Linked DNA regions of Homo sapiens. The protein of the gene in region 2 purifies or fractionates together with the protein of the main gene of each other region. This does not show direct contact. Each region holds a gene or a part of one and is shown on either strand. Other genes may lie near its edges.

Evidence for each region.
Region 1: the proteins of PKHD1 (region 2) and NDFIP2 purify together in Homo sapiens (affinity purification with western blotting, with the first as the bait; one study listed by BioGRID). This does not show direct contact.

What each region holds. Positions count from the first base shown.
Region 1 is NC_000013.11:79,487,628-79,491,453, reverse strand, and holds part of NDFIP2 (NEDD4 family-interacting protein 2), read right to left. Parts: intron 1-3,826. UniProt on the Homo sapiens protein: Activates HECT domain-containing E3 ubiquitin-protein ligases, including ITCH, NEDD4, NEDD4L, SMURF2, WWP1 and WWP2, and consequently modulates the stability of their targets. As a result, may control many cellular processes.
Region 2 is NC_000006.12:52,080,952-52,084,777, forward strand, and holds part of PKHD1 (fibrocystin), read right to left. Parts: intron 2,305-3,826; coding exon 2,227-2,304; intron 1,592-2,226; coding exon 1,441-1,591; intron 1-1,440.

The DNA.
Region 1 (3,826 bases), on a different chromosome or scaffold from region 2:
AACTCTAAAGGACACCATTCAGAGAGAGAGACAGAGGAAGACTAAGCAATATATTTCAAGCTGGAAGAGAATGCAAAGAAACAACCACCACCATCACCCCCACCTTAAAGAGCCCAGGTCTCAGTAGCAGAAACAGAATAAATATAAAAAGGAATAAAATAACATAGGCAAGGTTTTATGTCTATAAAATTGGCCTTGAACTAGCACCATTCATTCATCTTTATCAAATACTGAAAGTCTACCATATGGCAGGTATGGAAAGATATATACAGTAGTGAGCAAAACAGACAAAAATCTCTCTACCACCATGAGGCTTAAATTCAGGGAGAAAGAAGGGAGGTAGGAAATAAATAAGCAAAATATTTGGAATACCAGAAGATGATAAGTACTCTGGATAAAAACAAACAGGAAACAGCGATAAGGAGTACTGTGAATGGGATATAGTGATTTAAAATAAGGTAGTCAAGAATGACCTCAATGAGGCAATCACACTAACAGAATGAAGATTCTACCATATTTGAATAAGCTGTTTTTGACACTCTCACAGGGAGTATTATATTCTCTTCTACTATCCACTCATATCCATCCCAATTCTAGGACAGACTAGGTGCTTGGCTGATTATCAGGTGCAAGTAAGGGATGCAAAACAACCTCACCACATTGTTAGGAATTTATTTAGAGACTGGGTGAAATAAAAAATTAATTTCTTAGAAGCGTCCTTCAACATGCCAAGCTTCAGGCCTATATGAGGTACATTCCTATAACATCTACATTGGGGTGGGCAAACTAGAGCAAGCAGGCCAAATCCAGCACACTGTTTTTGCAAATAGTCTTCTGGAACACAGCCCATTTGTTCATTTTCATATTTGGTATGGATACTGCTGCACTACAATGGCAGATCTGAGTAGCTGTGACAGAGACCACATGGCCTATAAAGCCTAAAATACTATCTAGCCCTTTACAGAAAGGGTTTACTAATCTACTAACCCCTGGTCTACATCACCACCACCACCACCCCAAGTAACATAGGCTTCAGGGTCATCTTCACGAGCATGTGATCACTCTAGTCACATGAGACCACCACTCAGGAGGAATCCATGATTGGGGTTTAATACCCTGTGATCACTGTCTTAAAATTCTTAATAATTTTATCTCTAAATATCAGTTTTATAAGTAAACTCCAATAGGACTCCAATGGAGCATGTGCCAGGGGCCTGACACCTCAGCTCACCAGTGGTCTGCCTCTCCAGGAAGTGTTCTCACTCAGTTGAACCCTGTGGCTCAGTCTGACCTCCTAATCCTCACCCTACAACTAGGGAAAGGCAAGGTGACAGCCATCCCCATCCTAGGCTAGAATCACCCTGGCACATTCAGAGGGTGGCCTCTTGCCTATCACTGATGTAGGTAATGAGCATGTCCTGACATGGAGACTACATATTTGCTTGGGGGTCCACAGACCTATACAAAAACAAGGTCTACAGAAAGGGGAGATTGACTTCCTCATCACAGGCCAGGGCCCCACATTTTCATTCGGCATTAGACCTTGCAAATCATGTAGGTGGACCTAACTGCTTTCATGAAACAATTATAAACTAGAGTTATAAATGACAGTTCCATTCTTCTATGAAATCCAGCATAAAATTTGTTTCTGTTTTGTCCCATTCCACTCTAGGCCATCCCCTTAACTTTGCTGCAGCCATACAGCTTTCCTCCTATATCTTCAATCAACAAACTCATTTCCACTACAGGTTATTAACACATTTACAATACTCATCAACTAGAACTAGATCTTCACATTTCAATCAAGTCTGCGTGACTGTCACAACTTAAGAGTGGATGGAGTTACCTGACTAAGCTGATCCCTATCTACTAAGGGGTCAAATTGACTGGTGTGGCACATCATCTCCAAAGATGGCCACTATCACATTCTCCCCTCCATGTATGTGCAAGTTTCTCCCCCACTGACAGATGGAATTCATTTCTTCTCCCTTTGAATTTGGGGGGTCTTACAACTGCTCTGACCAATAGGATACTGCAAAAATGACATTATGAATTTCCAAGCCCAGGCCTTAAGAATGGCAGCTTCCTCTTCCTTCTATGCTGTGGGAAGCCAAGGTCACATCAAGAGGGCACACAAAGGAGAACTGAGATGCTGAAGTCAATAGTTCCAGCTGAGCTTCCAGAAAATAGACAACATCAACTGCAGCCAAGTGAGTGAGCCATCTTGGAAATTCCAACCCAACCAAGCCCCAAAATGGCTCCAGTCCTAGCTAACACTATGTGGAGTAGAATCAACAATCTCCTGATCACACTCAACCCATGGAATCTTAAAAGAAAATAAATACTTGTATTTAGAGATGTTTGTTACACAGCAATATAAAACTAAAACACCCAAGTCTGAATACCAGCTCCATCACAGCTGGGCCTATTATTTAACTTGTTTGTGTCTCATGTTTCTCACCTGCAAATTGAGGATAATGACATTATCTACTTCATAGAAGTGGAAGGATTAAGCGTGCTAATATGTACAAAGCATTTAGCAGCATTTTATTAATACAATGTAAGTACTGTTCTATTATTGCTATTTCATAATTGATAGAATTTATTATTTATTCCATCAACTTGCTTTATTTTCTTCAAAGAATTTATTACTATCTGACATTAGGCTTACTTATCTATCTGCACTTCTCCACCAAAGCATGAGCCATGAGACAAAAACTTAACTGTCTTATTAACCAACACCTAAAACAGAAGCAGACAGAAGTACTATAATATATAGCTATTATATATCAGATGAATGAGTTATAGGATATTTGTTTCATAATCAATAATGATATCTAAAAACTGCTCCCTTACCTTTAGCATAAATCTGACAAAGGGCACTCAAAAACATAAGCTATAAATTATAATATGGTATTTTCATGATACAATTCCAATACATTTATTTGCCACTACACATATAGTACTCCAGTATTAGATCATGTACTGCTCAAATGTGCCTAAGCAAAGGCTACCATTTGATTCAGCACTGTTCAGGTGTGTACTCATTTGTATAATTTTTTTTTAATGAGCTAAACTCAACCAAATAACGTATTTACAGTTAATATCAAGACATGCACAAAAATAGCAAGAGAAATTTTAATCTGGGGTATGTTTAAAAGCAATTTACCCTGGCAACCCAAATTGACATAATACTGGTCTTCAAGTTATAAGCAACAACTTGGTATATAACACATTTGAGTATTGGTATACAACTTGGTGTACTACTTAGTATACAACATATTTGAGTGTACATTTCCTCAATTAGTTTTTTCAACATACAAAGATCTATTTTAAAGATGAAATAAAAATCAGACATTGACAGAACCCTAACACACCTTTGAGAAAAAGCAGTAGTCTAGAAGGTTAGAAAGACACACAAACACATAATTCAGTATAACAAGTTATCCTAACTTTCTTCTGCCTTGATGCTGATGACAGAGGTCAGAAACTCTCTCTACCTCCTTCTTTCAATTATAGATTCGAAGGAGTTTTTACATTTAAGAACAGGATTTTATGAGGCAAACAAACTAGAGAGAGTACAGAACTTCAGATGAGAAATCAGTGCATAAAAATTAAGAAGACAGAGATATGTCACTGTACAGGTAGGGAGGGCCCATTCAAAAAAACTTGTATGCTAAGAACAGGAATTTTAAACTTCAAAAATTTAATAAACCCAGAATGGTTAAAATTAAAAAGATTGACAGCAGCAGAATGTTTGCAAGTGTGTGGAGCAACCAAAACTTCATACATTGATGGTGGAAGTGTAAAATGGCATAATGACTTT
Region 2 (3,826 bases):
ATTGTGAAGTGCTGCTTTTGATGCTGCAATGGCTGTTTTAGAGAAAACAATTATGTACATGTTTTTATGATAATGATGAATAAGACATATTTTGTTCATGAAAAACTGTACATTTTTCACACTTAATTGAATCTGATATTTGTCTTCCAATCAATTAGTATATTTAATAGGATCATATTTCTTTTCTTTAAAAAGATGACATAAAATCAATGGTGCATCCAAAAATCATTAGTATGTTGGGATAAAGGAGATAGGACATGTAAATCTCCAGAGCTTTGACTTGTTTCATGGCAAGTCTTTGCAGAATGTCTATGCCCAAATGTGCCATAAAATCTAAGGGAAATATATAACCCAGTTTTAAAACCAATAGTAGTGGTATAAAAATGTTAAATTCAACAGACATTTATTGAACATCCTCTACTCGTAAGATATTGCGCAATGCATCATGAGGACTACAATGGTGAAATTAAACACATCCCCTGCCCTCAAAGCACTTAATTCTGTGAGGAGGAGTCTGACAAGTGGGTAACTGACATATAAGTGTTATGAAAACTCAGAGCTGAGGCACAGGGTCACTAAGGCTACACGTGCTGTACCTTTGTGTAAATTACAAAAAAAAAAAATCCCTTCGGGGTGATGAATTGCACAGAAAAGTGTGGGTACACACACATACACCCTGTGGATGAATTACTACAAGTTGTTCCTTCTCCTTTCAAAAAAGGGAAAGATAACTTAGTTGAATGTTCAGGGAAAAGGTGGCATTTGTGGTATGGTTGGTGATTTCCATAGCCAAACATGGAAGAGGGGGAGACTTCCTCAAAGAGAGAACAGAAAAGAAAAGGAAATAACAGTGTTTTTTTTCTCTTAACCAATCATCTACTTGCATGCACTTTATTTACTCATGCCTAAGACATGAGTAAATAAAAATGAACATGAACTAGTCTAAATTTCACAGGGCAACAAGAAGTTGAGTAGAAAAACAGATTCCCTGGAGTCTTATAAAAATATTTTCTAAATAGAGGTAATGTCAAACTCAGCAAACAGAGCCTAAAGCAAATTTCTTTTCTAACCAGTTTGGGGTTTATGTGCAATCATTGCAATTATGCCTATTCCAAAAGATGAGTATTTGCAATGGCAAAATGGTACCATTTATTAAAATCTTAATAGCCATAGAACTCTTTGCAAAAAAAAACAAATGGAAACACAATCCAGCCCCTCCTTACGAATATCTCAAAGTTCTTCCCCATACTCTCATCCTCCGTTAAGTTCTAGACCCCAGATAGGGACCTTTTAGAAAGCATATTCACATGAAACTTTTTTTAACAACTATGGCTGGCAATTGAATCACAGCAAAAATTGCTCTAATATGTCACCAAAAGATACTGAGATAAGCAAAAATCCCTCATCCTGTCTGGTCTTCCTATTCCCAGACAGGTATACCTGGTCCGGCATGTCACCACAGGCAAATCCAAGAAAACAGGAAAGACGTCACAGGGAACACTCCGCAGTGCGGGCACCACCATGTTCACGTTCACCAGGTGTATCTCCAATTGAGAGCCATTGTTGGGGTAAAGAACACCCAACTCCAAACCTAACACAAGGGAAAGAAATCTCAGGCTGCATAGAATTGTCATTGACACAGGACAGTGTGAAACTGTGCTAAGATCCTGGGGGTAATGTAAGACATTAAATTTGCCCAAGGATTAAATTAATACTCCTCATTTCCTCATAGATGCTGTATAAAGGAGTTTTCTCATTTATGATTTTATGAAAGAGTTTTCTCTCTTCAGGTTCACCTAAATCCAGAAAAGAATTTTTCAGCCCTCAGATTTACTCTTTACTCTGCTGGGGATGGATATGCTAAGCAATGGTGCAGAAGCTCCCAAGTAGAGGACTGTCTTTAAGGAAGATAGCCAAGATTCTGGGAGATGCATTGCTGAGCACTATGCTACACACTTCCATATCATCTCATGTAGAAATCCCAGAGTCCCATCCCACAGCCTGGAATGGGAAAGTGGACACAGAGTTGTCATGGTATGCTGTGCTTTGCTTCTGTGACATTAGCAAGCCAGTATCTAGAAAGACAGAAGTTGGTCAGTCTGTTCGTCTCCCTTCAGGCCCACTTTTACACCTGTCCTTAGAAAAGGAAGAAAACCAAAGACTCATAGTCTTTAGGATTGTGGGTCAATACATAAGAAATGTGCACTTGGTAAAACCCCAACCTACCATCAAAAATGACTGTGATCCACGTTCCCCCTGCAAGGCTACCTTCTTCAGGTTCAATATGTAAACTCAGGTGACGTACTGTAAGTAAGTGAAAAAAAACATTGGTTTTGAAGGTCAGATTCAAACCACTACCTTCTGCAATATTTTAAGCAATATTTAACCTGCCTCAGAATCACCAGAAAGGCTTGATTAAGCACAGGTGGTTGCACCACATCCCCAGAGTTTCTGGTTCCGTAGGTCTGGGGCAGGCCCAAGAATCTACATTTCTAACCAGGTGCTGCTGGTGTGGGAAACACATCATCAGAAGCCCCATTTTAAGGAAAATTTTGACAAATTCTTCTTATCTTAGACATTCAAAAACCCTGCACTCATCAGGACAATTCTGAATTTCTACTTCCTTTGGAAAGAGCCTCAAGGACATATTTGGGTCCTAATCAAACCCATACTGTCTCTCTCTGCTCTCTTTCCCACTCTTTAATCAGGTGGCCATATTTCCCTGTAAAGATCATCAATCATTTCCAGTCCTGGAGAGAAAAAAGGACTTCCATTAGGTTGGTGCAAAAGCAATTGCTGTTTTGCATTCCTTTTAATGGCAAAACCGCGATTACTTTTGCACCAACCTAATAGAAGCTGTTCCTATTTCAATTCTCCTGCTCAATATACTGCTTAATATACTAGTTTTCCCTCATGATCAGAATGACTTCCCAAATGAATACAAAATTATCTAGATTCTTGCCTTGCCTGCTTAGAGAGGGGGTGAAGCATGGATCATTGCTGGAATTTCCTTTTGTTTAAAAAAAAAAAAGGCAGTATAGAATTTATATACTAGGCTAGATTGGATTCTCCTGTATAGATCACCAGCTAAGCATGGGCCTTAATCTATCCCTCCATCTTTGAAGATGTTCCTGGACAAGTCTTGATGAAGGAAAGGCCAAGTTAAGGAAGCCAGCAAAAATCATGCAGCTGCTCAGTGAGGTAATAAACAAGGAAAGTGTTACCGACAGAATTATTTATAGTTTCTTTAGAAGAAACTGTGTCTAGCCCAGGACTTCCCTGTACAGTTATTCTCATGATGCACTTCACATCTGAAGGTGGTGGGGAACCACGTCACATTAGCACAACCATTTATGGCAGCCCCAGCCAGACTAGACCATCTTCCAAAGATGATTAGATACTTCTATCTAAAGAAGCCCCAAAACAAAGGCCATAAAAAGATACAGAGGATAACCAAATTCGCAGAGAAAATTGAACAGATGATTTGAGATAATACAAGCAATCTAATGATTATGACAAGTTAATCTCTTTGGGAAAGTCCGACAGCAAAATCTAAAAAGAATTACATCACATAGCCCAAAAGGAATTATAAAAGAAAGGTTATAAGTTATTATTAAAAGCTCTGCACTACAACAATAATCTTCACTGACCATTAAAAATTGAAGTATATAGTCATAACATTTCAGTATATAACCTCAGCTGTTAAACAGAAAATAAAAACAATTATTCAACATATAATTTAAACCCAAAAGCAAATACCTTAACACCTGCTCTGAAAACAGTATTTTTAACTCAATTTTTTGATTGGCAAGTTAAAAATGCATAT